Linked DNA regions of Homo sapiens: region 2 is linked to region 1. Evidence: fine-mapped expression QTL. A gene starts in region 1. The other region holds a variant in brackets. All regions are shown on one strand. Distances are between the middles of the regions.

Region 1 (14,577 bases):
CTCTTATTTAGATGTGGCCAGAATAAATCACCTGGCATGTCATATCCTAAGGCACAATCAAAGCCTAGTTTGGAGCCTGAAAGCATCTGGTTCAACCCATTCATCTTACAGTAAGGAATGCCACACGTTGCAGGATCTTGCTTAGGGCCTGCAGCTGTGGTTAGCCCCCAACCCCAGGAAGGCTCCCGGGGGGCTGGCGCGCACCAGGCTGGGCAGGGGAGCCATATAAATGGCCGAGACTATACAAGGCTAACTTTTCAGTAAGCAAGCGGCCCCACGTGGAAGCTCCAGGAGGCGGGACCGCTCGGCCACAGCATGGTGTAGCTCATTAGGAGACCAGAAGCAACTCAGCTTAGTGACTGTGGGCTGCCTCTCCTCCCAGCCTGGGCCTCAGTTTCCCTAGCTGTAGAAAACGGGGTGGAGTCGTCCACTCGGCGCCCCTGGGGAGCGTACAAAGGGCAGTAAGTCTCGGGCCCAAGGGTGGTGAGTTACCTCGAAACGGGGGTGTCCCTGGACTCTCGCCTGCGCCCGGGCCCACGCGGACAAGGAAGACGGAGGTCCGCGCGGCGAAGCCAAAGAGGCCCCCGGGCACGGCATCGCTGCAGCGGGCGCAGTACCAGTTGGGGGAGGGCGGCAGCGTCCGCGGCTCCTGCCCCATAACTACAAGCCGTCAGAGACAAGAGAAGCTGCCACAGCCGACCGCTCGTAGCCTCACGCCTTAGGTAGGGAGCGGGGCGGGGTGAACTCCGAGCCCCGCCTTCTCGGGCAGTCGCTACGGTGCGCGTCGAGGCCCAGCCAGCACCGCGCGTTGCGTTCCCGCTACCGCCGGGCTGGGAAGGGCGGGACCACGCGTGCTGCACTGGCCCTCAGTACCTAGCCCGCGGTAGGAGGTCCGCCCCAACCCTGGCTAGGGTCAGGTGCTGCCTGAGCACAGCCCCGAGGTTAAGCATTCTCACTTCCCACAGAAAGGCACAAAATTAGAGGATTAGACTAGTGGAACCACCGCCCCAGGCTACCAGTTTATTATTTGGAGCTGTTCAACCACTATCCCGTCCAACGTTTTTTGAGCGCTATGTGCCAGGGCACTTTGCTAGTTGTGGAGGTGTTTTAAAGATATGCACAAGAGGCCGGGTGCGGTGGCTCACGCCTGTAATCCCAGCACTTTGGGAGGCCGAGGCGGGAGGATCACGAGGTCAGGAGTTAAAAGACCGGCCTGGTCAGCATAGTGAAACCTCGTCTCTATTAAAAAACAAAAATAAAATAAAATAATAAAATAAGCCGGGTGTGGTGGCAGGCGCCTGTAATCCCAGCTGCTCGGGAGGCTGAGGCAGGAGAATCGCTTGAACCCGGGAGGCGGAAGTTGCTGTGAGCGGAGATCACGCCACTGCACTCTAGCCTGGCCACACAGCGAGACTCCATCTCAAAAAAAAAAAAAAAGTAAAATGCAACAATCCCTAGACAACAAATACTAGGGAGGCTGAGGCAGGAGAATCGCTTGAACCTGGGAGGCGGAAGTTGCAGTGAGCAGAGATTGCGCCACTGCACTCCAGCCTGGGCGACATTGCGAGACTCCATCTCAAATAAAAACAAAACAAAACAAAAAAAGATATGCACAAGAGGCCACTTAACAAAAATATTGTTGTACCTGAGTGAGTTAGAGAAAACGCCACACTTTGAGACGAATTAAGAGTCCATTTGTTTAGCCGGTGGCCAAGAGATGGCTAACGCTCAAAGTTCTCTCAGCCGGAAGAAGAGGCTAGATTTTCTTTTATACTTTGGTTTAGAAAGGGGAGGGGAGTCTAGTTAAAACAATTTTACAGAAATAAAGTAGGCAAAAAGTTAAAAGGATAAATGGTTACAGGAAAGTAAACAGTTCCAGGTGCAGGGGCTTTAAGACTATTTATTACAAGGTGATAGACTGGGGGCTTTGGGTGCTATCAATCAGACGAATTCCTGGGAATTGCGGATATTGCTCGCCACAGTATCTTATCAGTTAATTGCATCTTGGATGTGCTGGGAGTCAGCTTGCACAAGTTAAGTTCTTGAGGAAGGGGCTGCCAGTGAAAGAGCCAAGATGGAGTCTGTCTGGCTCTCTTAGCTAAGCAAGAGTCAATTCAAGTGGAAACAAGGCTAGGTGATCAGAGGAAAAAGGGAGAGTCTAAAAACAGGGTTAGTAAAAACAAGGTTGGGCATTACAATATGGAGTCCGGGAGACAGGCTGGTGTGAGCTGTGATCGAGCCACTGCACTCAAGCCTGGGCAATAGAGTGAGACCCTGTCTCAAAAAAACAAAACAAACAAAAATATGAAAGTACGAATCTGGAATTAAAAAGGGAAAGAACAGTTTCTGCAACTGGGTGGAAATTCTGGCTCTGGGTTCTGGGTACTCAAAGATGAAGGAGAAGCAAATGGAGTGACTCTTGATTTGCTTGATTGAGGGCCAGCTGTGTGAAGGAAGCTGTATGTGGTAAATGGTGTGGAAGAAAGTTTCCTTTCAACTCAAAAATGCTAAAATGCTCAGATTCTGCACTACTCGTGTGTTGCTTGTTTGCATTGGGTATCTGACATTCCTGCATAGGTAGCAAACCGCAATCTGAACTACCTGTTATTCTAATACAGAGGGGTCAAATACATATATTTGAAGGCGTCTAGGGGCACAAATTTGGAGGCACCTAGTCGTAGATTGATCACTGGTTTGCCAGTTGTTAGTTGAGAGACTTTAACATATCCTAAATATGTTTCCTCATTTGAAGAAGGAAAATGATAATCCATGCCTTGTTGGATTGCTGTGAGGAATAAATGAGATTTAGTGAAATACCTGCCTGACATAAGGCAGTAAATGCCAGATGAATATAAACTCATTCTTGAAGGTCAACCAGATTAGTAGGGATTAGGACAGCATACATCATATTTGAACTATTTGCTCTTTAAAAGAGATTTTAGGCTAGGTTTCGTGGCTCATACCTCTAATCCTAGCACTTTGGGAGGCCGAGGAGGGCAGATTGCTTGAGCCCAGGAATTCGAGATCAGCCTGGGCAATTTGGGGAAACTCCTTATCTATAAAAAATACAAAAATTAGCCGGGCGTGGTGATGTGCGCCTGTAGTCACAGCTACTTGGGAGGCTGAGGTAAGAGGGTGGCTTGAGCCCGGGGTCGAGGCTGCAGTGAGACTAGGTCATTGCTACCACACTCCAGCCTAAGCGAGAGAGAGACCCTGTTTCAATAAAATGAAATAAAATAGCTTTCACACTATTTCAACTGATCTTTACAACAAGCTTGTGCCCTAAGGTTAGTCATTTCTGATAAGAAAACTGAGGACCACCGGATTAGGTGGCTTGTTCACGGATTCTGTTCCCCTACTCCTTTCTAGTTTGTGAGTTGGGACTTTAGTTTTTCTGAATCCAGGTGAATTTTCGGAAGCCCACGTGCTTTCGGCCTTTATTAATTAATTCATTCCCAAGCCAGGTTCGCCTGACCACACCTCGAGCGCCGGCCCAGTGCTTGCGATCTTCGTGACGGCACCTGGGGTGTAAGTACTGCTTGTGGGAGAGCCCCACAGGAAATCCAGAGTATTGCGCATGCGTGCTGTCCAGAAGGCGCTTGAACTCGGCGGCTTCCGTAGCGGGAGGGCGAAAGATGGCGGCGGCAGTACTGGGACAGTTGGGTAAGGATTTCTTAGTGGTTAAGCGACAGAAGGGAGTCGAGATGGAATCTGAGTTGACGGCTTGTGTTGATGTTGCAGGTGCGTTATGGATACATAACCTGAGGAGCCGGGGGAAGCTGGCCTTGGGGTGAGTCTCTCGCTTCGGAGTTTCGGAAGGGCCCAAGGCATCTTTAGTATTCTGCCAGTTGGTAACTGAGCGCCTCCGTGCCTAACTGTGTTTTAGGCTCTGGGGTTACTGAGGCGAATGAGACAGCCCGAGTCTCTGCTTTGTCACTCTATTTTTTCTCCACCTTATTGCATAAACTGTACAGGGATCAGGATTACCCATAACCCAAGGGCGATTGTAAATGCGATTTCCGAACGTCTACTGTGATCTTTCTGGACAAGGTTAGACTATTCCATCTCCATATGGAAGCGTCCAACTTTTCAAGTTACCTCTCTGATTACTTGCTTACATGGGCAGGGACCGTGTTGTGGACAACTCTGCTTTACGTCGTACCTGACATTGTGTTTAGCGGTTTATATGCTTTAACTCACTCTCATAACATTCTACGAGTAGGTTCTGCTATACCCGTTTTTCAGACAAGGAAATTGAAGTCCCCAAACGTAAAATAACTTGCCTAAGGCCACTCAGTTGTAGGAAATTTTGAAGCTTTATACCAGAGCATTCTGTAGCCTTAGGACAAAAGCATTCATTAAAGGTTAGGGTAAGTAGTCGCTGTATTTCTCCCCAAAATAAAAAATCGGTATTTGAAAATTGATAATCTGATTGTAAATTTTCTGGTCTGTCCATTTGTTAGCATTGATTTTGGTTTAGTTCATAGGCTTTGCAGACAGATGAGTTGTATATGAATCCATTTTTTAACTGTGATCTTGGAAAAGTTACTTATTCTTAATAAGCTTCAGTTATCACTTTTATGATATGAGCGTTATGTTAGTACCTATCTCTTAGGATTTAAAAAATTTTTTAATTTTTATTTATTTATTTTTTTAGATGAAGTGTTGCTATGTTGCCCATGCTGGTCTCAAACTTAAGGGCTGAAACAATTCTCTTGCCTCAGCCTCCTGAAGTACTGGGATTACAGGCACATGCCATCTATGTAGCTCTAGTAGATTTTAAAAAGGAAATTCAAACAAGATAATGCATATGAAGTATTTAGTATGTTTATGGCATGTGATAATCCCACTCTGAATTCTAGTTGCCATTAATGTTTTTATTATTATAAATTATTACTGAGTTCCCAATTATATTTAACCCTTTTCTAAGTTTTTGGGTCCGAGGGGGATAAAGAGGTGGGCTAAAGAAGAAAATAGGAAGTAGTAGCTCTTAGGATTTGTCTGTACTCTTCTTAGATAATCTTCTATCACTCTTCCCCCAACCATGCTGATTTACTTACTTTTTCTGAATATACTTTGCACTTACTTGCTTCTTGGCTTTTCCTACTATGCCCTCACATCTTGTCTATAACAGCAGTCCTACCCATTATTCAAACCTCTGTTCAGATGTTTTCCCTTCAGGAAGTTTTCACTGGTTTCTCTAAAACGGAAAGAAATTAGTTTTTCCTTCCTTTTAGCATGTGTGCCTTCTATGATGACTTCATGTATATGTGTATGTGCCCTTTACTAGCTTGTGTATCTTGGAGAAGTAGGGACATTTATTTATTGTTGTACCTCCAGCATAAGGTCTTACACAGGCAAGTATTTTGATGTTGATTTGAATTGTCTTGCACCAACTTGTATTAAGAAGCTCTGAGCAAGAAACTTAAGCAGTTTGCCTTTAGTCTTTTCCTCTATGTCATGATACAAGAGTGTTTGATTTTGCTAGATAATCTCTAAGGCTATTTGCAATTCTGAAGTTATTACATAATTTTGTGAATCCTTATTTTGGATTTTCTAGTGGGGAAAATGACCATAAGAAAACTAAGTAGAAAGGTATAAATAATGTTCATGATAACCATGTAAAATTTTAGCATATAATCTGATTCAGTGATGAGAAACTTTTTTTTCCTTTTTTTTTTGGAGACACGGTCTCGCTCTGTGCCTAGGCTGAAGTGCAGTGCTGTGATCATAGCTCACTGCAGCCTCAAACTCCCGGGCTCCCACCTCAGCTTCCTAAGTAGCTAGAACTACAGGTGCATGCCATCACACCTGGCTAATTTTTAGGGTCTTGCTGTGTTGCTCAGGCTGGTCTCTAACTCCTGGGCTCAAGTGATCCTCCTGCCTTGGCCTGGAGGGATTACAGGCATGAGCCGCCAGGAAACTTAATTGCATATAGGCCCCAGACTAGAAATAAATAAACTAAGGGAAGTTGTCTATGTAAAATGAGAGTGGGAGGGCCTGTGGTGGTCAGTAGAGTGTATTCCTCATCTAAAAACATTGAATTAGGTTAAGAAAACTGCTGCTGACCAAATAAAACATTTCTGCAGGATATATATATATATACACACATATATGCACATATATACATATATACACATATATATACATATATACACATACATACATGTATATACACACACATATATATATAGATATTAAAATTTTTTTTTTTTTAAAGACAGCGTTTTGCTGTGTCACCCAGGCTGGAGTGCGGTATCATGATCATAGCTCACTGCAGCCTCGATTCAAGCCATCTTCCCAACTCAGCCTCCCAAGCAGCTGGGATCACAGGCGTGCACTACTACACCTGACTTTTTTTTGAGTTTTAGTAGAGACAAAGTCCTGTTATATTGCCCGGCTGGTCTGAAACTCCTGGGCTTAAGTAATCTCCCACCTCAGTCTCCCAAAGTGCTGGGATTACTCTGTAGGCTATATTTGTTAGCTGACTGACAGTTTTCAGTTTTTGAATTCCAAGTCTCCTATTTTACTGATGCATACATTTGAGAAGTTTTGTGACTTACTGAAGGTTACACAGTTAAATGTCAAAGTGAGGATCTAAACAAAATATTTTCTGGGACTACAGGTGCAGGCCGCCATACCTGGCTAAGTTTTGTATTTTTAGTAGAGATGGGGTTTCACCATGTTGGCCAAGCTGGTCTCAAACTCCTAGGCTCAAACGATCCGCCCGCTTTGGCCTCCCAAAGTGCTGGGATTACAGGCATGAGCCACCACGCCCAGCCAAAAAAATATTTTTTTTTAGGAGACAGAGTCTCACTATGTTGTACAGGCTGGTCTCGCACTCTTGGGCTCAAGTGATCTTCCCACCTCAGGCTCCCGAGTCTCTGGGATTACAGACGTGAGCCACCAAGCCTGTCTGTACCACCCTTTAGATGGGGGCATATCCTCTTAAGCTTTCCTCAGTTTCCAACCATGTGTAAAATTTTGGCATAGTTATTTACACTCAGTCCTCTTACCTTACCTGTCTCTGTATTCTTTCATTGATTCTACAAATATGTATTTAGTGCCTGCTCTGAGCTGGGAACTATTCTAGCACTGAGGATTTTGCAGGGAACAGGAACAGACAATAATCCCTTGCCATTGTGGGGTGTACAATATAGTAAGGGGGGCAAATAAGCAAAATAAGTAAAATATAGAGTATATTAGATAGTGACATCTGCTTATGAGAAAATAAAGCAGAGATTGAGAATAAGAAGTATGTGTGTTTGAGAGAGGAACTTGTAGTTTTAGATAGGGAAGGCCTCACTAAAAGATAATCTTTGAGTAAAGATTTGAAGGAAATGAGGAAGCATGCTGTGCTAACATCTGAACAAACAGCATTCTGTGCAGATAGAATAGTAAGTGCAACAGCTCCAAGGAACCATATCTGGTGTCAGGAACAATGACAAAAAGGAGAGGGATAGTGATAGGAGATGAGGTCAGAGAGGAAGGGGCAGTCATAAATCATATAGAGCCTTATTATTTTTTGTAAATACTTTGGCTTTTATTCTGAGCAAGATGGGAAACTGTTGTAAGGTTTTGAGCATGGAGTTATATGATCTGACTTATGTTTATGAGTGGTTCTTTCTGGCTGCTGTGTTGAGAATAGACTGGGGTGGGGATGGGGAGCAAGGATGGAAGCAGAGACCGTTGGCTATTTCAGGTATGAGATCATGGTGGCTTGGATTAGGGTGGCCGTGAAGGTAAGTGAATGGTTGGATTCTGGCAGTATGTTAACCACACCTGACAGATCTTGTTGATGCATTGGATGGGAGGTGTGAGAAAGAAGGGTGACACCAAAGTTTATGACCTGAGCAACTGGAAGGGTAGAGTTAACCACTTACTGAGCTAGGAAGACTTCCAGAGGAGCAGGTTTGGGGAGAATATTAGTAGGTCACTTTTGGGTTTGTTAAATCTGAGCTGTTGTAAGCATCCAAGTAGAGATACGAGTAGGCAATTGGGTATATGAGTTTATAGAGTTCAGGGAACGGATGTACATTTGGGAGTCATCAATGCATGGATAATGTTTAAAGCTGCAAAGCTGGTTGACTTCACCAAGGGAGTGAGTGTAGATAGAAAGAGTCCGAGGATTGATTCCTGCCTAAGGCAGCCAATATTACAGACCAGGGAGGGAGACAAGGAAACAACAAAGGAGACTGTGGGGGAGTGGCCAGAGAGGGGAGAAGAAAACCCCAAGTGTCCTGGAACCCAATTAAAGAAAGTGTCTCAAGGAAGAGTGAGTGACCAGAGATACTTAGGTCACTCTCAGATGAGGACTGATAATTAGAATTAGAATTTGTCTGTATTTTCTGTTTTAAGGTTGCTTCATTTTGTTTTAATTGAGTGTTATTCCAGCAATTGGCCAGGAGAGGGCACATAGGAACTTTTGATTTGATATTCTGTGCTTCTAAATTAAGAACCCCATTTGGAATAATACTTTAATTTAATTTGATTATAGTAGTTTGGTCTTTGCTTGATAATTCAGTTCATGAATTATTTGAGTCCTGAAAGTATTATAAGAATTCAGAAAGCTTTGACATTATTAATTCATAGTATGTTTAATTTATGAAGCAACATATTTAATTCACCAAATATGTATTGAAGATTTGAAGAGCGCAAGGTACTGTGCTAGGCGGGTACAGCAGGTATGGGCCTGACTCAAGAAATCTTTCAGATTGGTTTGTAGCAAAGGGGTTCATGTTTCTGTCATGCTGTTGGTGATGAGATTAGAGATAGAATTAAGGTTAGGAGAGGCCTTATAGATGATGTAGTCTAATTCCTCTTTTCACAGACAAAGAAACCAAGGTCCAAAGAGGTGACAAACATAGTGTACCCTACTCGCTAATTACAACTACATAGAACCATAAACGTTTATGATTATAAACTTGAGAAAAAACTTTGAAATTGTGTATTTAAAGCTTACAGTTCACAGGACTTATTTGGGGGCTGGGGACAGGAGAGATTAACTGTTCAAAGGGCCTAACTTTGTTTTATTTTTTATGCCCTTAAAAAAAGAAACACGGGTGTGGTGGCTCACACCTGTAATCCTAGCACTTTGGGAGGCTGAGATGGGTGGATCACCTGAGGTCAGGAGTTCAAGACCAGCCTGGCCAACATGGTGAAACCCCGTCTCTACTAAAAATACAAAAATTAGCCAGGTGTGGGGTGCGGTGGTGCGTCCCTGTAATCCCAGCTACTTGGGAGGCTGAGGCAGGAGAATCGTTTGAATCCAGGAGGCGGAGGTTGCAGTGAGCTGAGATCGCACCATTGCATTCCAGCCTGGGTGACAAGAGTGAAACTCTGTCTCAAAATAAAATAAACAAAACAGAGGCAAGGCCTTGCTATGTTGCCCAGGCTGGTCTTGAACTCCTGGCCTCAAACAGTCCTCCTATCGTGGCCTCCCAAAGTGCTGGTATTGCAGGCGTGAGCCACCATACTTGGCCAAAGGGCCTAATTTAAAAATAACACTAGCCATCAGTGTTTATCATGGGCTAGACATTGTAGGATGCACTAAATTATTAATCCATCAACAGTATTAAGTAAGTATTATTTTCCTCATTCTACAAGTAATAATATCTAAAATTTATTGAGCCCTTTTAAGTGTCAGGTTAAGTATTTTACTTGCATTTGAGCTTCTTAAGAAGGCTATGAGGTAATTATTATTAGTCTATTTACTGATGGGAAAACTGAGACCCAGAAAATTATATGACTTCCCCAAGGCCATTCACCTAGTAAATTAGAGTTAGGATTTAGACCAAGGTCTGCTCGACTCTGTAGCCTCAGCTGTCACCACTCGGCTTATTTTAGCAAAATAGGCCTTCATACATCATGTATCCTAATTTTGTGCTTTTCAGTTAAGACATTGGAACCTAAATGTGGATGGCAAAGGTATTGATTTTGTTAGGTATTTTGATGGCACTAATCTTGATATTAGGATAGGAGATAGTGAACTTGGGGTAAAAATGATACACTAGAATAGATTTGTTTGAGTCTTTGGTCTAAATGGCTTGAAGACTAAAAACAAAGGTTTTGTTTGCCAAGTAAATCATCCAAGTTGCATATTTGTATGAGAATATGCCAATATACAACCACTTTGAGTATATAAGTCTGAGTTAAATGTTTACGCAGTATCCACGTACCAGACATTGTTCTTGGTGCTAGAATACAAAGAAAGTCGGACTTGCCCTTTAAATGCTCAACATCTGTACACTTAGTACAATAACTCATTCTATTATAGCCACTTACGATAGTACAGTGGTCTAAGTCATTGCTGTATGGCTGGCAAGAACAAAGTATTAAGACAACGCGAGAATCATGATCAGATAAGGGATTAGGTGATGTTTCACATTGAGGTGACATTTGAGCTAGAACTTAAAACAGGATAAGCATTTCATTCAGGAGATAATAAGACGAGAAAACAATTTGAATAAAGGCTTGTTCAGGGAACAATGAACATCTATGTGGCTAGGCTATAAGGGCAGATTGGGTCTAGATTATGAAAGGCCTTCTATGTCTCGCTAAAGAGTCTGGACTTCGTATTGTGGGCAGTAGGGAAATACCAAAGTTTGCTGTGTTAACTTTTTATTTGGATATGCCCAGACATATACAAAAGTAGACAGTTTGATGAACCTCCATGTATCCGTCACCCAACTTCAACACTTACTACTTATGGCCAATGTTATTTATAACCTGTACTCTCCCTCATCATATTTTGAAACACTCCCCCCACTGTATCATTTTCATAAATATTTTACTATTATCTCATTAAAAAGCATTAAATATCCATTTGATATTTAAACTTCCAATGGCTTCGTAACTGTCATACTTTATAATAGTTCACACATTGAAACTAATTGATATTTCTGTTAAATCTCTTACTCTGTAGGTTTTTTATTCAACCCTCTCTTTTTTTTCTTGTAATTTATTTGTTGGAGACAATTGGTTGTTTTGTAGCGTTTTCTATACCTTGGATTTTACCGAGTGCATCCCCATGATATTACGTAACATGTTGTCTTTTCTCTGTGTTTCCTATTTTGAATCTAGGGGCTTGAGCCCCCAGTTTCATTTTGGGCAGGAAAGACTACTTTGTGGATGGTGGGTGGTGTGTTCTTCCATAAGGAGGCACATAATGCCTCCTTTATCCATTAGTTTATTAAGGATTATAAGATGATGCTATAATAATTTGCTATTCCTTCATTACTAACTTTATACAAGTCAAATTTTTCCTCATCTACTACTTGGAAACTTAATGGTACAGTTTGTATAGGAAAGACAGGATAAGTCTTGTCTTTTTCTTCATTCTTTCTCTTCATTCACCAGTTTTCAAAATAACAAGTTGGCTCACTAGCATTTTCTAATGGTAATTAATTTGTATTTTTCCTGGTTTTATTATGAACTTATGGCTTTAAACATATTTGATGTGTTTCAACCCACTACAATTATTGTCCTGATTAATGCTTGGCTTGTCCCATCTTTGGCTTGTTGGGCATCCACAAGTTGGCTCCTGAGTGCCTTTGACATGACCTTGGTAATCTTTGATGGCTTCTTTGCTTTCTGATATGACAAGATGTTCTGGGCTCATTTTGTATGTTATCTGCTTGAGATCTGCAATCAGCCATTTCTCTCAGAAGTTTTGGTTCTCTTCAATAGGAAATGGTATTTCAAGACCGTAATCTGGGAAGTAGGGGCACTAATTGCTACTAGATTGTTCATTGCTTCTACACCTCTTCAGTGGAGAGATCTAGTACTTATTGGATTTTGGCTGAACCTTTTCTGCTTATTTCCATACCAAGAATCCCAGTAGTCAGTGACACTGAAAAAAAAGGATAGCATTAGAATATTACATAACTATTCATTTGCTTATTTCAATAGACGTTTTTAAGCTGGAGGATGACATGAGTAGCTCTGAATTATAGAAGGGTAGCTCATTTGGTACTCAAGCAGAGAAAGATGGATTGGAATTGGGCAAGTTGATGGAAGAGAAATCAATCTAGAGGCTATTGCTATATAGGATGGTGGCAATTAGAATGGGGAAGAGGTAAAGCATTTGAGAACGATTTCAGGGGAATCTTTATTTTATCTGTAAGATTTGGTGACTAGCTCTGGCAGGATGAAAATCATTGGGAAGTTGAAGATAAACTCTAGAACACCATTCAAGAGTGATTTTATTTAGTGATATAGGGGAGTAGCGGATGCTGGGGAAAATGGGAGAGGGAGAATGACTAGTTGTATATTATTAAAGCAGTTAAAGTGTGGGGGAAGAGGTCAAGGAATAGTGAATTTGGGATCTTCATCATCAAGTCTCAGCCTATTAGTTTAGCATTCAAAGACAACCACTCTAGCCTCAATGACCTTTCCAATACTTAACAAATTCTCTGACTCAGTCAGACCTCCCCTTATTTCTCAACTCTGTACCTCTGCATAGATGATATATGTCGTTGCCCCATTCCTCTGATAATTAGTGTATTAGTCCATTTCACACTGCTATAAAGATACTACCTGAGACTGGGTAACTCATAAACCAACAAGGTTTGATTGACTCACAGTTCTGCGTGGCTGGGGATGCCTCAGGAGACTTAGAATCATAGGGGAAGGTGAAGGGGAAGCAGGCAACTTTTTCACAAGGCAGCAGGAGAGAGAGACAGTGCAGGGAAACTGCCACTTTTAAACCATCAGATCTCATGAGAACTCCCTCACTATCACGAGAACAGCATGGGGGAAACTGCCCAGCGATCTAATCACCTCCCACCAGGTCCCTCCCTCAACATGTATGGATTACAATTGAAGATGAGATTTGGGTGGGACACAGAGCCGAGCCATATCAATTAGGAAGTTCAAGATTCACCTGAAGTCACCTCTGAAATCCTCTGCTGTTTCCCATATTTTAGTTATGTGGTTTTATATTGTCTTCTAATTGTTTTGTGTTTTTGTCTTAGTTACTCAACAAAGTTGGGCAATCTTACAGGTCAGATCAGAGAGCTCATTATGTCTTCTCTAAATCTTTCTTAGGAGTGGGTGACTTATAGAAGACAGTGTTATTGGCCAGTCAGGGCAAGAAATCTTGGGTTAATATCTATTAACGGTTTGACTTATGTGCGTTTACTTTCTCTCCTGTTAGCCTCTAATAAACTGTCTCTTTGTTGTGTTTAAAAGTAGTCTCTATTAATGAATACCTCTAGAATATTTCCAGTTGTGATCCTTAAATTGTTTTCATCAAAATGGAGCTGAAGTGGTTCAAAAGATATGTAAACTCTACAGAAAGGTCCCCTAAGTGTCTGTTGTTTTATAGGCTTCTTTCATTTCACAGTGTTTTACCTCAATCATATATCCACACAAGTGCTTCTCTTGACATTTCTCGAAAATGGGAGAAGAAGAATAAAATTGTTTATCCTCCACAACTGCCTGGAGAACCTCGGAGACCAGCAGTAAGTTCGTGGGTAGAACTAATCTCTTAATTGTGGTAGTGCTCTTACTCTTAAGTGATTAGTAATGATTTATTATTCTGTGTTAAAAAAATTATACAACCATTCACTCTAATTGACAGAGAAGATGTACTAGATTTATCTCTTCAATAGTTGAAAAAGATTGTTATTCTTTACTTATTTGTCTTTACTTAACCTCCTGGATAGGGACCTTAACTCTAAAACTAAGCTAATAGTTTAAGACATACTGATTTTTGACTCTGAGAGGCTTGCTGATGAGCTCTTAATGATGGAGCATGTGGAGTTGGCAAGAATGACTTAAACTATTGGCCAATGTTTAAATTATGTATATGATTTTCCAGTGTTATATATTTGAATATAGACACACTGTTTTTTGTTTGTTTGTTTGTTTGTTTGTTTTGCAATTTGAACCTAAAGTTTGAACTTAATCATTGGGTTCCTACTGGAGATTTATCTTATCGTTATCTGCACAGAATAAACAAATAACTTTTCAACTTTCATATTTTGTCATGACATCACAACTTGAAAGATTTGTCAGTATAGGCTATTAAGTATTGACTCCATTTTGTTTATTTTATTTTATTATTATTATTATTTTTGAGACAGAGTCTTGCTCTGTCACCCAGCTGGAGTGCAATGGCACGATCTTGACTCACTGCAGCCTTCGCCTCCCGGGTTCAAGGGATTCTTCTGCCTGAGCCTCCGGAGTAGCTGGGATTACAGGTGCCCGCCACGATGACCAGCTAATTTTTGTATTTTTAGTAGAGATGGGGTTTCACCATGTTGGCCAGGCTGGTCTCCATTTTGTAATTAACCAAAATTGACTAAATGAAACGTTACACAATTGCACAAATATCATAAATAAAAATTTTTCTGTAACTAATGAACTTTTTTTGCTTCTTACCTGAGCTCTTTGAAATCACGTATTTTTTTTTTTTTTTTTTGAGATGGAGTCTCCCTCTGTCGCCCAGGCTGGAGTGCAGTGGTGCAATCTTGGCTTACTGCAAACTCTGCCTCCCGGGTTCACGCCATTCTCCTGTCTCAGCCTCCCGACTAGCTGGGACTACAGGCGCCTGCCACCATCCCGGCTAATTTT
Region 2 (16,074 bases), 270 kb before region 1:
AGGCTTGGCACATAGTAAGTGCCTGATAAGTATTGATTATTAAGACCGGGCACAAGGCCAGGCGCGGTGGCTCACGCCTGTAATCCCAGCACTTTGGGAGGCCGAGGTGGGTGGATCACGAGGTCAGGAGATCGAGACCATCCTGGCTAACACGGTGAAACCCCGTCTCTACTAAAAATACAAAAATTAGCCGGCTGTGGTAGTGGGCGCACCTGTAGTCCCAGCTACTTGGGAGGCTGAGGCAGGAGAATGGCGTGAACCTGGGAGGCGGAGCTTGCAGTGAGCCAAAATTGCGCCACTGCACTCCAGCCTGGGCGACAGAGCAAGACTCTGTCTCAAAAAAAAAAAAAAAAAAAGACCAGGCACAATTGGCTGGGTTTGGTGGCTCACCCCTGTAATCCCAGAACTTTGGGAGGCCGAGGCAGACAGATCACCTGAGGTCAGGAATTCGAGACCAGCCTGGCCAACATGGTGAAACTCCGTCTCTACCAAAAAATACAAAAATGAGCCAGGCATGGTGGTGCACACCTGTAGTCCCAGCTACTGGGGAGGCTAAGGTGGGAGAATTACTTGAACCTGGAAGGCAGAGGTTGCAGTGAGCTGAGGTTGTGCCACTGCACTCCAGCCTGGGCAATGGAGTGAGACTCCGTCTCAAAAAATAAAATAAAATTAAATTAAATTAAATTAAGTTAAATTAAATAAATAAAATGGACTTCCCTTATGTCAGTTCCCAATTTCTTTTTCCCTGACATTTCATTGGTCTCTGAAGTCTTGTTGTCCAATAACAATCTACCATTCTTGTCCAACCACCTCATTTTATTTATATTATTATTATTATTATTATGAGTCAGGGTCTTGCTCTGTCGCCCAGGCTGGTGTGCAGTGGCACCATCTCAGCTCACCACAACCTCTGCCTCCCGGATTCAAGTGATTCTCATGCCTCAGCCTCCCAAGTAGCTGGGATTACAGGCATACACCACCAACCCTGGCTAAATTTTTTGTATTTTTAGTAGAGATGGGGTTTCACCATGTTGGCCAGGCTGGTCTCAAACTCCTGACATCAAGTGATCTGCCCACCTCAGCCTCCCAAAGAGCTAGGATTATAGGTGTGAGCCACCACGCCTGCTTGCTTGCTTTATTTATTTATTTATTTATTTATTTATTATTTTTGAGACAGAGTCTCACTCTGTTGCCTAGGCTGGAGTGCAGTGGTACGATCTCAGCTCACTGCAACCTCTGCCTCCCAGGATCAAGCAATTCTCCTGCCTCAGCCTCCCGAGTAGCTGGAATTACAGGTACGTGATCCCACGCCTGGCTAATTTTTGTATTTTTAGTGGAGATGGGGTTTCACCTTTTTGGCGAGGCTGGTCTTGAACTCCTGCCCTCAGGCGATCTGCCCACCTTAGCCTCCTAAAATGCTGGGATTACAGGCATCAGCCACTATGCCTGGCCTATTTATTATATTTATTTATTTATTTTTATTTATTTATTTTTTGAGATGAAGTCTCACTCTGTCACCCAGGCTGGAGTGCAGTGGCATGATTTCAGCTCACTGCAACCTCCGCCTCCCAGGTTCAAACGATTCTCCTGCCTCAGCCTCCTGAGTACCTGGGACTACAGGCATGTACTACCACTCCCGGCTAATTTTTTTGTATTTTTAGTAGAGATGGGTCTTGGCTAGGCTGGTCTCGAACTCCTGACTTCGTGATCCGCCCACCTCAGTCTTATTTATTATTATTATTATTTTTTCTTTTTTTGAGATGGAGTCTCGCTGTGTCGCCAGGCTGCAGTGCAGTGGCGTGATCTCAGCTCACTGCAATCTCCGCCTCCCGGGTTCAAGCGATTCTCCTGCCTCAGCACCCTGAGTAGCTGGGACTACAGGCGCTTGCCACCATGTCCACCTAATTTTTATATTTTTAGTAGAGACGGGGTTTCAATATGTTGGCCAGGATGGTCTCGATCTCTTGACCTTGTGATCTGCCCACCTCAGCCTCCCAAAGTGCTGGGATTACAGGCGTGAGCCATTGCGCCCAGCCTGCATTCCCCTTTGAGATGCATTTAGGATCTTTCCAGATGACTTGTCCAAGGTCACACAGGAGTCAGATGGCCTTTCCACTACCCCACAACACAGATGCATAGTTACTCTGTGGGCTAATACAATTCAGAATTCAGAGCTCTGCCCATGGTCACCGGTGGAATCCACCAGCCATCTCCCTGACCTTGCTCTCCTCTGTTCTCCTCATCTCCAGGGTCCCATGATTCAGGGCGAGCTGGCTTCAGGATGTGGGCAAGAGGGGTTTTAGATGGAAGGGTCTTTCCTCCAGGACAGAATGTTAAGCCACGCCTGGACTTAATTGTTCCAAGATGTCGTTAGAATTGGTGGACAATTTTTTTTTTAATGATTAGCAAAGGACAAGGCTTTTGGTGGTCATTAGTATTGTTTATCAAATATTCCAGTTCTCCACATTCTGGGTACATGGTAGGATGAACTTCCCTGTCTCTTCAGAGTTAAGTGTAGCTCTGTGATGTGCTTTGTCAAAAAAAAAAAAAAAAAAAAAAAAAAAATCAGAGGAAATAACATGTGTCACTTCCAGGTGGATGTTTTAAGAGCAACGTGCAATTTACTACATTTTCTCTTGGCTCCAGGAATGACAACTGGCAATGTTCAAGTTGGTGGCTGCTCTATCAACTTGGACCTGGAGTAAAGACAGCACAAAACAGAGCACACAACAGTCCCACAATGCGTGTTTGAAGCCACTCACTTGAGGGTTGTTACTGCAGCACAACCCAGCCCATCCTGACTGATACAGGTTCATGTCTGGTTAGTCAAAGCTGCCATGAGCCTGGTGAAAACCTATCAAGGCCCATCCTTTTGTTAAACCTGAGTTTGGAGACTCCAAGCCCACTTCCCTGGTCTCTCAGATAAACCTGCTGCAGAGGAAAGAAAGATATTCCTTGGTGGCCCAATTGGAATGAAAAATTTCAGGATTGAGAAGGCAGGGGATTCTTAGTCCTGAAAAGGCATTCTATGTTAGACAAGTTAGAGGCTGAGTGAGTTATTTCCCAGCTGAACATCCTTGGGCTGGTGGAAGATTAAATGAAGTACACGCATCAAGTGCCTAGCATAGCACACTGTGAGCTCTGGACACAAAGATACTCACGGAAACCTTGTCGTTAATTAGAAACCAATAATCCAACAGTAGAGGAACAGTTAACTAATTATGGTACGTTCATGTACTGCTACATAGCTAAAAGAAGGGGGAAGAAAGGAAGAAGGTGGGGCAATGTAATATGTAGGTTATGATAGACCATTGTTAAGTGAAAAGAGCAAGTTATCAAACAGGTTAGCTTTGGAAACAGACCCAGAATTGAGTCCCAGCTCTCCTAGCTGTGTGTCTTGGGCAAGGCTCTTTTTTTTTTTTTTTTTTTTTTTTTTTTTCTGAGATGGAGTTTTGCTCTTGTTGCCCAGGCTGGAGTGCAATGGTGCGATCTTGGCTCACCGCAACCTCCATCTTCTGGTTCAAGCGATTCTCCTGCCTCAGCCTCCTGAGTAGCTGGGATTACAGGCATGCACCCACCACCACCCCCGGATAATTTTGTATTTTTAGTAGAGACAGGGTTTCACCACGTTGGTCAGGCTGGTCTTAAACTCCCAACCTTAGATGACCTGCCTGCCTCGGCCCCCCAAAGTGCTGGGATTACAGGTGTGAGCCACCATACCTGGCGAGCAAGGCTCTTAACTGCTCCAAACTTCACAGACTGGCAAAAACAGAAGCTCAATAAATGTGAGCTATTACTTTATTGTTGTCATTATTAATAATAAATCTATAGGTCAACGTTGGCTGGGCACCTGACTTCCATTATCATAGCTCTGCGATCCTCTAATCCATCTCCCCCATGACCTTGTGAAGTTGATCTTAATCCATTTTACACACAAGAATACTGAGGCTCAGAAAGGTTAAGCCAGTTGCCCAAAGTCCTCAAGTCAAGAATAGGAGAGTTAAGATTTGAATCCAGTTTTGTCTGGTTGCAAAATTCACTCTCTTAACCATTGTTCCCTGCTGGCACCTGGCACAGGTAATACACTTTCATTGTCATAGGATTGCAGGGCTTTGTTTCTGATGGAGTCAGGGTGACTTTGAGACAGGGTTTCACTACCATTCCCTAGGCTGGAATGCGGTGGCACCATCTCAGCTCACTGCAACCTCTGCCTCCCAGGCTCAAGCGATTCTCCTGCCTCAGCCTCCAAGTAGCTGGAACTACAGGCACACACCACTGCGCCAGCTAATTTTTGTATTTTTTTGTAGAGATGGGGTTTCACCATGCTGCCCAGGCTGGTCTCGAACTCCTGAGCTCAAGTGATCCAGCTGTCTTCACCTCCCAAAGCGTTGGGATTACAGGCGTGAACCACCACACTCAACCCATCCTGGGTTACATGACTTGTAAAGTCATGCCTCCAAGGGAACACCACAGACAAATCCAGGTAAATAAAATTGTTTAGTGAGCAGCTCTCAACTTTTGAGTGCTTACAGCCCACTTTTCAGTACTTGCAGCCCACTTACTTTCATGATAGTAAACAAGTCAGCAATGATGAGCCCTGTGATAGCCAGCCCCCAAGATGGCCTCATGATCTTCACCTCCTGGTACTCACATACTTCTATGGTCCTTCCCCACAATGAGCAGGGCTGACCTGTGTTACCAACAGGATATTCAGGAACAATAGTGCGTAGCTTCTAAAGCTAGGCATAAAAGACAATGTGGCCTCCACCTTGTTCTCCCTGGCTCTGGAGGAAGCTCACCTCCATGATATAAGGACATTAAAGAAGTCCAACAGAAAGGTCCACGTGGTACAGAACTGAGGCCTGCTGCCAACAGTCATGTTGGTGCACCATCTTGGAAGCAGATCCTCCAGCCCTACTCGAGCCTTCAGATGACTGCAGACCTGGCTGACATCTTGGTTACAACTTCGTGAGTGACCCTGTGCCAGTAGCACCCAGCTAAATCACTCCTGAAATCCAGATCCACTGAAACTGTGAGGTAATACATATGTATTGTTTTAAGCCATTAAGTTTGGGGTATTTGCTACACAGCAATAGATAACTAATAACTATATTATGACAGTACAAGGAAAAAAACTGCCTCGAATATATTTTTTTAAAAAATGAATTATCACATGGTCTCCTTTGTCCCCTTTGGCACATGGGTTGGAAGAACTAACCCTTCCTTACAAACCATCCTCTCATATGTACTCACCTGGACAATTTCTCACAGCTCTTGATAAACACACCACCTTTCTTCTGCATCAACTCCAGAATAGGCCTCCCATCTATCCTCTGACTTGTAGCAAGTGAATGCCTTTTTGTACCATTCTGACAGTCCAATTCCAACAAAAAGCACTAGAACAATATATAGCCTGGATTGTAGCAAAAATAAATTTTATGTGCTAGTAAAAACTTGGCAAGGCCAGGGGTGGTGGTGCACACCTGTAATCCCAGCACTTTCAGAGGCTGAGGCAGGCAGATTGCTTGAGCATAGGAGTTCAAGACCAACCTGGGCAATGTGGCAAAACTTCATCTCTACAAAAAATACAAAAATTAGGCCGGGTGCAGTGGCTCACGCCTGTAATCCCAGCACTTTGGGAGGCCGAGGTGGGTGGATCACCTGAGGTTGGGAGTTTGAGACCAGCCTGACCAACATGGTGAAACCCCGTCTCTACTAAAAATACAAAATTAGCTGGGCGTGGTGGCACATGCCTGTAATCCCAGCTACTCAGGGAGGCTGAGGCAGGAGAATCCCTTGAACGCGGGAGGCAGAGGTTGTGGTGAGCCGAGATCGCGCCATTGCACTCCAGCCCAGGCAACAAGAGTGAACTCCGTCTCAGAAAAAAAAAAAAACAAAAAAAACCCAAAATACAAAAAGTAGCTAGATGTGGTGGCACACGCCCTGTAGTCCCAGCTACTTGGGAGCTGAGGTGGGAGGATGGCTTGAGCCTAGGAAGTCAAGGCTGCAGTGAGCTGAGATCATGTCACTGCACTCCAGCCTGGGTGACAGAATGAGATCCTGTCTCAACAACAAAACCAAAAAAAGGCCAGGCGTGGTGGCTCATGCCTTTAATCCCAACACTTTGGGAGGCCGAGGTGGTGGATCACTTGAAGTCAGGAGTTTGAGACCAGCCTGGCAACATGGTGAAACACTGTCTCTGCTAAAAATACAAAAAATTAGCTGAGCGTGGTGGTGCGTGCCTATCATCTCAGCTATTAGGGAGGCTGAGGCAGAAGAATCGCTTGAACCTGGGAGGAGGAGGCTGCAGGGAGCCGAGATCAAGCCACTGCACTCCAGCCTGGGTGATAAAGCGAGACTCCGTCTCAAAAAAAAAAAAACAAAAACGCTTGGTGATACCTTTTGGAGTCCGTCCATGAGACCACAGCCTACCGTGCTAAGTGGTTTCATCAATAGCTGTAAAAGAAAAAAATACTTCACTTCCTTGAGCCCAAACCCCTCCTTCTGCTCTAGTCAGGGATGTGGGGGTTCTGTCCTCTCAACACAATCTTCTTCTAGGCCTCTGACATCTATTCAGGACAACCAGCTAAAGAGAAGCTCCTCCTTCCTATGGTGAAATCTGCTTTCAGTGGAGAGGAGCAGATAGTGAGACTTCACAGTGGCAGTACTCTGGTTCAGATTCAGAGTTGCTGCTTCTTAGCTCTGTCACCCTGGGTAAGTTACTTAACACCATTGTACCTGAGCTTCCTCTTCCCAGCTACGGAGCTAATAATAGCACTTTCCTCATAGAGTTGTTGAAGAGACAAAACAAGAAAAGGATCGTCCAGAGTTTAGCACATTGCTTGGCAATTAGTAAGAGCTCATTCTCCTTTTATTGTTATTCAAGAATAATAGCAATAGACAGGCGTGGTGGCTCATGCCTGTAATCCCAGCACTTTGGGAGATCAAGGCAGGAGGATCACTTGAGCCCAGGAGTTCAAGATCAGCCTGGGCAATAGAGCAAGACCTCATCTCTACTAACAATTAAAAAAAAAAAAAAAAAATTGGCCAGGCGCAGTGGCTCATGCCTGTAATCCCAGCACTTTGGGAGGCCGAGGCGGGCGGATCATCTGAGGTCAGGAGTTCAAGACCAGCCTGACCAACATGGAGAAACCCCGTCTCTACTAAAAATACAAAATTAGCTGGGCGTGGTAGCACATACCTGTAATCCCAGCTACTCAGGAGGCTGAGGTGGGAGAATCCCTTGAACCTGGGAGGCAGAGGTTGTGGTGGTGAGCTGAGATCGTGCCATTGCACTCCAGCCTGGGCGACAAGAGTGAAACTCTGTCTTTAAAAAAAAAAAAAATTAGCTGGGCATGGTGGCACATGCCTCTAGTCCCAGCTACTTGGGAGGCTGAGGCAGGAGGATCCCTTGAGCCCAGAGTGTTGAGGCTGCAGTGAGCAGTGATCACACCACTACACTCCAGCCTAAGCGACACAGCAAGTCCCTGTCTCAAAAAAAAAAAAAAGAATAGCAATGATGATAGCTACTAGGCTGTGTGTGGTGGCTCACATGCGTAATCCCAGCACCCTGGGAGGCCCAGGCGGACGGAACACCTGAGGTCAGGAGTTCAAGACCAGCCTAGCCAACATGGTGAAACCCCGTCTCTACTAAACAAACAAACAAACAAAAATTAGCCAGGTGTGGTGGCATACGCCTGTAATCCCAGCTACTTGGGAGGCTGGGGCAGGAGAATCGCTTGAACCCAGGAAGTGGAGGTTGCAGTGAGCCAATATCACACCACTGCACTCCAGCCTGGGCAACAGAGTGGGACTCTGTCTCTAATAATAATAATAATAATAATGGCTGCTATTTAGTAAGCGCTTACCACATGGCTAGCATCCTTTACATGCACTATCTCATTTAATCTTGAGAGACAGGGCCTCTTACTTTTCCCCATTTTAGAAATGAGGAAGCTGAGGCACAGAGAGGTGAGGTGCTTTGCCCAAGATTACACAGACTCACGTAATCAGGTATAGGAGCCCTCACCCTTAACCACCTTGCTCTGCAGCATCCCAGGAGGAATGGAGCAAAGGGCCCTGTAAACACTAGGAACACTGCAGGGATTGAGGAGAACAGAAGGGGCAGAGTGAGGTCATGCAGTAAAGGAACAGTCCAGAGGAGAGACTTTCCCAAGTGGCAGACACAGCGGTGGCATGGAGTCCTCTGTGAGCACCACCATCTGTCTGTCTTCTCTGTAGTGGGAGTGTTGGACCTCTTGTGTGTGTGGTAGAGCCACCACACTCTCTAGCACCTGCTCCCCAGGACCCTGAGCTGCTACAGTGGCAGGGTCCCGCAGCAGCATGGACGCCCTGCTGAGGCCTGGGTTTGGACATGCCAAGAGCCCTGCTGACAGCTCTGCCTTGCCCTTCCTGAATTCCTGCCGTGGTCACAACACAGCACTGGCTCATTAAAATCAGGGTCTGCCAGAGGGGAAAGCCAGGCCATTTCATTTGCCAAGATGCAACAGCATAAGATGGCTGGACACGGTGGCTCACATCTGTAATCCCTTCGCACTTTGTGGGGTGGAGGAGGGCAGATAGATTGAGCCCAGGAGTTCAAGACCAGCCTGGGCAACATGGTGAAACCCCATCTCTACCAAAAATACAAAAGTTAGCCAGGAATGGTGGCATGTGCCTAGTAAGCAGCTACTCAGGAGGCTGAGGTGGGAGGATCCCTTGAGCCCGGAAAGTCAAGGCTGCCATGAGCCGTGATCATGCCAGTGCACTCCAGCCTGGGCAGTGGAGATATAGTAGCATAAAATGGGACCAGTTTTGGCCCAACACCATCGTGTGGTGTTCTTGCTCAACCAGGAAAACAAACTCACAGAACCAGCAGTGTCCACAGCTCTGGGCCAGAGAGGGTCAGCAGGTTCGGGGCACTTCTCCTCCAGGCTCTGACCCCAGGGAACTCCTGTGATTCAAATAATAATAAGAGCTATAGAGGTGTCTATCAGGCCCCAAGCCCTGTGCCTTCTGTGCCTGGGAGACAGAGAGGTTGAGTTGCTAGGAAAGGTGGCCCGGCTAGTAAGCCTTCTGTTGACTGTGGCAAAGACAAGGGGCTACCTGCACGGTCATGAAGATCACCGTGAAAGAAGAGGGACAGCTGAAGACACTGGACAAGGTGGAGTTGTTGCAGCCCCTCAGAAAACACTTACATGAGGGGAGGCAGGACAGTGTAGTGCTGTGGCTCTCAATCTCAGACGATTTTGTCCCCAGTGGACTTCTGGAAATGTTTAGAGACATTTTGGTTTGCATATCTGGAGAGGGAGGTGCTATTGGCATCTACTGGGTAAACACGAGGGATGCTGCTAATTATGCTACAATGCACAGGACAGCCACCCGCAACGCTGAATTATCTGGCCCAAAACGTCAATAGTGGTTGAGAGGGCATGGGGCCTCAGAATCCAACAGGGGCATCACCAACAGGGCTTAATCTCCTGCTCCCCCTCTGTAAAACTGGGGATACCAAATTTCTGCCTCACAGAGCTGACCTATTGCCTGTTAAGTGCTTTCTGCAGGCAGGCTCATAGTAATGCTCCACCATTGTTGCCATGTTCATTACCAAGGATGTGCACTCTGCAGAAGAGCACTGACCAGGTAGACCCAGAGAAGGGCCATGAGAGAAACTGATCCAACGCTTGAGAGGGCGGAAGATGCCAGAAGAGGCCGTGATTACCCATTCTGGCATTCAGCGCTTTCCCTGGTCTTGTTTCAGCCTACTTTGCTTGCCTGGCCTCCGGC[T/A]GCTCTGGGTGGTCTATTCAGTGGGCCAGCACACATGCAACTTCTTCCTGTGTCTACCGTCCCCACCTCACAAGAACCTCTTCCTCCAAGGAGCCGCCTTGACCAGCCCAACCCTTAAGAATCACATAGCCCTTATCACAAATGGATCGACAGGGTGGCTACAGAGATGCTAGACACAATCATATCCATAAAGACTCTGAAAAACAGACATACATTCTCAATTATACACACAGACACACACATGCAACCTCAAGATGCCCTGTAGCCCTGGTCACAGACTGATCACAAATGTATTACCATACACATGCACACACACAAATATCCAAGCATAACACGATCTCAGACAGGAGTCCCGTATACACATACACATTTATACAATACTGGCACACACAAAAAACCCCCACACATACCCCCCAAGGATATGCTGTCACATTCACAAACTCATAAATTCACATAAATATGCATATTTAAAACAAACTCAGGAAAGCCCATAGGTCTTATACAGTTAACACCTAGGCATATAAAGATACACACCTGTCCATATACACAGAAATGTATTCTTGGCACACGACCTCATATACAGCTATTAATGTGCTTACATACATAAGGCATACATATATACACATTATTCAATGACACATACACTCCTATATATTCACCCAAACACACATATGTAACAGACATACAAAAAGACATTTAAAAAAATTCCATTTGTCCTCTTCTATACACACAGATGTACTCCCATAGTACATTTTATTCATTCATCATTTATATTACAAAACATTGCTAAGGAAACTTCCTTGGTGTGACTTCCAAATTCAACCTTGTGTTATAGCTACTTGTGTAGACTAGCAAAAATGCATCGAGTAGGCTCATTTCTCCCTTTAAATTTCCACTTGCGGATACGCCTTGTGGATTTGCTTTCTCCCCTGCAAGCCCTCACCTCTCTCTGTCCCCCTTTTTTTTTTTGAGACAGGGTTGCCCAGGCTGGAATGCAGTGGCACGATCTTGCCTCACTGTAGCCTCCGCCTCCCAGGTTCAAGTGATTCTCCTGCCTCAGCCTCCCAAGTAGCTGGGACTTCAGGCGCGCGCCACCACGCCCAGCTAATTTTTGTATTTTTAGTAGAGACGGGGTTTCGCCATGTTGGCCAGGCTGGTCTTGAACTCCTGACCTCAGGTGATCCGGCCGCCTCGGCCTCCCAAAGTGCTGGGATTGCAGGCGTGAGCCACCGCGCCCGGCCCCTCTGTCCCTTTTTGACTGCCCAGTCCCCCAGGCCTCCGCTGGAAGGCGCTCACTAAAGGTTCAGAGTCCGAAGCCGCATTCCCGGGCACCCTCCCCGGCCCCTCCCATCCCACAGAGGCAGGGGTGGGTCCGTGGGTGTGGCAATGAACCACGTGTACCCACGGGACTCTCGAAGTGGGGGAGGGGAAGGGGCGCAGCACGCCACCCTCCTTTCTCCGCCCCTGCCCTACCCTCTCCGCTGTTCCCCCACTGTCCTCCCCCAGCCCAGCCCAACCTCAGCCGGCCGCGGGAGGAGGCGGGAGCTGGGGCTTCGAACTGCCCCCTCCCACCTCCGCCTCTCCCCCGTCTCCTCTCCCCCTTTCCTCTTTCTCCTCCCCCATCCCACTTCTCTCTCCTTTTCCTCTTTCTTTCTCCCCTCCTCCCTCCATTCCACCCGCCTCCTTTTACCCCGCCCTGCCAGTCGTCCTCCCCCTCGCCCCCTCCGCCTCCCTCCAGCTCCGCCGCCAGAGGCTGAGTCATCGCTGCTGCGGCGCTGCCGGCCGTGCTGGGAGAGCAGGCGAGCAGGTAGGGAGGGTGTGAAGCAAGCGACGCCGTGCGACCCGGCACCACCGTCTGGGCCCTTTCCCGGAGAGGCCTGGGGAGGGGGCACCGAAAGGGGCCCGGGCCGCGGTGGGGGACGGGCGACGGGCCCCGGAAAGGCACAGATCTTACCCCTCAACCCCCATCCTTACAGGAGCCGCTTTGCAGCATTCTCAGCCGCACATGCAAATTAATACCTAACATTAGGGTGGCATCTGGGCCAGGCAAGTCAAACTGACGGCCCACGGACAGATCTGGCCGGCACCTGATATTTATTTGGCTCACACAGTGTTGTGTTTGTTTGTTCTGAAGTTTTAACTATTAATAGTTGCCAATACTTAAACATCACTCATTTCTTGGAAAATCAGATTCCCAACTCAAAAAATTAGAATATATGTCAACGTATTTCCCATGATAACTCTAGCCTATTTCTGAGTGGGGATACCTTTGTGTAGTCAGGGCATTGCACCCTCCCTACCTGCTCGCCCTCTAGTTTGCCACAGTCTCCGCTACTCCCTACTGTTTCACCTAGGCCACTGAACTTCCTTTGTGTTTCCTGCCAGGCCTCATATGGAATGATTCCTAGTCTAGTCCACCCCATTCATATTTTACATGGGGATTAGGAAGTGAGGGTAGGGCATTTCCCAAAGTCACATGTGGCCTTAAAGCTGAAGGGGAACCCTGCTTTTCCTCACCCACTAATCTTTTCTACCAAACCATTCTGACTCCTTTGGTATGCAGGCTAACATAGGGAATTCTTTTGTGAAAAGTGTGTTCCAGAAAATTATCTGGGGATCAGAGTAGACCTCAAATGGGAGATGATTTGGAGCATACAGCACCTCGTCTTTGGAGTTGATGGTAGCTTCTCACAGTCTTTCCCTTGGAGTGGAAATAGATGACAAAACTAGGGTGGATAGATGAATGGAACAGTTGGCCAATCTGGTATATTTGGTTATAAGAAGTTGTTTTCGGGTCATTGGAAACCTGGCTTATGAGACACTGTTGCATAAGGGCTACAAAGGCAATATGCCACTTTGCTTGGATTATTCTCTAGTCTAGTGCTTCTCAGCTCCTAATGTGTACATGATTCCTGTAAAGTGTAGATTCTGACGTGGCACGATGGCTCACACCTGTAATCCCAGCACTTTGGGAGGCCAAGGCAGGATAATTGCTTGAGCCCAGGAAATTTGAGACCAGCCTGGGCAACATGGTGAGATCCCTATCTCTACAAAAAAATTAAAAATTAGTTGGGCGTGGTGGCCTGTGCCAGCTACTTGGGAGGCTTAGGCAGGAGGATCCCTTGAACTCAGGAGGTGGGGACTATAGTAAGCTGTGTTTGTGCCCCTATACTCTAGCCTGGGCAACACAGTGAGACCCTTTCACACACACACACAAAAAAATTGTAGATTCTGATTCAGTAGGGCTGGATGGAACGAACCCAAGATCCTGCATTTCTGACAAACTTCCAGGTGATGCCAGTGTTGCAGGCCCCTAGACCCTCCTGCCTTTGAGTAGCAAGGGTGTGCACTCCTTGCGCTTCCGGTCTATTCATGGGTACCATTGCTGCATGACGGCCAAGAGAAGGGGTTTGAAGTCCCACAGTGGACTTCACAGTGGATCCCAGCCTACCCCTTAACAGTCAGCTAACCTTAGGCCAGCTGCTCATCCTCTCTGTGCCTCCATTTTTTCATCTGTTCCATTGAAATCAAATAATACTTCCTTAGGAGCATAAAAAAGGCAGAATGAATGTATGACCCCAGCACAGTCTGTGCCTCATGGCAGGCCCTCTGTAAAGATAGTTTCTACCATTGTGCACTCTCTCATGGGCAGTGAAACCCAGAAATGACGTGGTTAGGGAGTGGGATATGGAAGGGATATGGAAGGTATTTCAGGATAAGAATTGTACCCCTTGGCTGGGCGCGGTGGCTCATGCCTGTAATCTCAGCACTTTGTGAGGTGGAGGTGGGCAGATCACAAGGTCAGCAGTTCGACACCAGCCTGACCAACATGGTGAAACTTCGTCTCTACTGAAAATACAGAAATTAGCTGGGCATGGTGACGCGCACCTGTAATCCCAGCTACTAAGGAGGCTGAGGCAGGAGAATCACTTGAACCCGGAGGGTGGAGGTTGCAGTGAGCTGAGATCGCGCCACTGCACTCCAGCCTGGGTGACAGAGTGAGACAACATCTCAGAAAAAAAAAAAAAAGAATTGCACTCCTTAATGTGGCCTTCTGAGCCATGCAGGGTGGTCACTGCCCAGCCTACCCCTTAATGCTCTCCTACCTCTGTCCATGCTTCCACCACAACGGCCACCTATTAGGTCCTTTGGCCATGGTACCTTCTCCCCTCAGAGGCCTTGCACATGCTGTTCCTCATATTCCAAGCTGGCTGGCCCCTTCTTATCCTTCAGTCTCAGCTCCTATGTTACTTCCTTGGGGTGCCTTCCCTGATCTCAGAAGTCTAAGGGTTTAGCGTAGAAAGTGGGGAGCAGGGAACATCTCTTTGGGCTGCATGTACATAGGGAAGTCACCGTATCTACTTAGATTCTAAGTTTATTTAAAGCAGCTTTGGATAGGGGTGAACTAAACGCTGCCTCTGCTAGTCTATACGATGCCTTTGTGCAGATTAGAAAAAGGGGTCGGGCACAGTGGCTCGCACCTGTAATTCCAACACTTTGGGAGGCCAAGTGGGAGAAACACTTGAGGCCGGGAGTTTGAGATCAGGCTGGGCAACATAGCGAGACCTCAACTCTACAATTTTTTTTTTTTTAAATTTTAGAGACGGGGTCTTGCTCTGTTGCCAGGCTTTGTGCAGCATGTAAACTGTACAGCCCTAAGTGGGAGCCCTACTGCTAATGCTTCCCCAAGCTACCTCGTGATTCGGTTAATCCTCCTTTGCCTGGATTAAGTCTCTTTTATAAACTTTCTTAACCCCATAAAACTCATCACAATTGGGATTAGGTATCTAGGGAGTTATTTATTTAAAATCTGCCCCCTACACTAGACTGTACTGCATCAAGGCAAAGACATATCCATCTTGTTCTAGGCTGTATCACTAGTGCTTAGTACGGTTCCTGCACCATAGCAGGTGCTCCACAAATGTTTTCTGGATATTTCAGGAGCTCATTCTGTACCAGGAAAGCTAAGACTCTTACTGAAACAACTGTGGGCATAGGATGAGACAGGCACAGAGCTAAATGTGTGGTGCAGCCCCAGTGAGGGAGATGTCACTTCTGGCTGCGGGGATGCTCCGGAAGAGGTGGTGTTTTGGCTGGGTCTGACGGAACAGATGGAGTTCATTAGACTTAGATGGGTGGGGGAGTGTTCTTGGCATTGGGAATAGCAAAAGCAAAGGTGCAGAGGGAAAAAAGTTCAATGTGTTCCTAAGACAAGTCACAAATTGTGATCAGCAGAGTGGCCAAATATGTTTTGTGAATTACCTGCCAATATTTATTTTAAAATCAGGAGATTTCACATAAAGATCCAGATTTTCCAATTCTCTTGAAAAATCGAAAGGTCCCACCAGGTAGCAATAGACTGGCACTGAGAAGTGGCCGTTCGTTTTGAAGGTGTGGGCTTACTCCAGTTTGCCACAGTCCTTACCTTTCCCAATTGCATCACACCCAGCTCTCTTCACTCATTACTGTCCCTTTCTGGCTTTGGAGATGGCCGACAGACTGTTTGATTGGCACACATGGGAGTTGTAAGGAAGATTGGTTCAGATCCTACAGACCCTTAAATGCCAGCTAATTAAGTAACCTGGTAACTGCAGGGATTGCAGGGGTCTTCTCCAGTCCCATGGATCACTGTCCAAGTATCCCTTGGCAGAGCCATGCCTGACTTCAGAAGAAGGAACTTCAGGCCAAGAAGGCTGGTGAAGTTCTGGAAACCAAGGAAGCAGAGAGCTCTGCATGAGCCTTTCCTAGAGAGAAATCAGTCTCTGTCTCTCTTAGACCGACCCCTCAGTCACAGCATGGTGCTGTGATTTTGCCAAGAGGCAGGGGTGGGTCTGGGGGAAGATGGACGGTGCTTCCAAAAGGCTAAATTTTAGTCTCAAAGGTTTCTGATTGCGGACACATAGGTGATATCTAACTTGCTTTTGTTTAGCCTTGAATATTTTCAAATATAATCTTCAATATTTCTGTTACAATATTGTAGCTTGCTTCTGTTTATAAAAATAATGCAGCATTTGAAAAAAAATTGGAGAACATAGAAAAATAAAGATGAAGATAATAATCTGTAGTAATCTTCCCACCCAGATGTAACATGTTAACATGTTGGTGGATTTCCTTATGTTTATTTTTTTCAGTGTATTTATACTTTTGTGTGTTGTGTGTGTGTGTTTGTGAGACGGAGTCTCACTCTGTCACCTAGGCCGGAGTGCAGTGGCGTGATCTCGGCTCACTGCAAGCTCCGCCTCCTGGGTTCACACCATTCTCCTGCCTCAGCCTCCCTAGTAGCTGGGACTA

Which allele goes with the higher level. Positions count from the first base shown, and alleles are read on the strand shown. Sizes are in standard deviations (SD) of each study's normalised expression.
With allele T in place of A in region 2, the expression in prefrontal cortex of the gene that starts at base 3,598 in region 1 is lower (small effect, 0.39 SD a copy in BrainSeq).

Evidence for each region.
Region 2: its variant is fine-mapped to the expression of MRPL22 in prefrontal cortex (BrainSeq, PIP 0.95).

Annotation. Positions count from the first base shown.
Region 1 is chr5:154,937,476-154,952,052 of GRCh38, forward strand. MRPL22 (mitochondrial ribosomal protein L22) reads left to right here and starts at 3,598. Exons shown (of 7, transcript NM_014180.4): 1 at 3,598-3,663; 2 at 3,742-3,790; 3 at 13,346-13,463. The coding sequence starts at 3,636. It overlaps GEMIN5 (gem nuclear organelle associated protein 5), which reads right to left and starts at 736. Exons shown (of 28, transcript NM_015465.5): 1 at 493-736. The coding sequence starts at 658. RefSeq lists enhancers at 232-823, 415-594, 985-1,034, 3,538-3,697.
Region 2 is chr5:154,671,448-154,687,521 of GRCh38, forward strand. MIR1303 (microRNA 1303) reads left to right here and starts at 14,329; the gene lies at 14,329-14,414. It also overlaps a transcript of LARP1 not described here. RefSeq lists silencers at 11,102-11,301, 11,342-11,821. The variant T/A (reference allele first, on the strand shown) is at 9,784.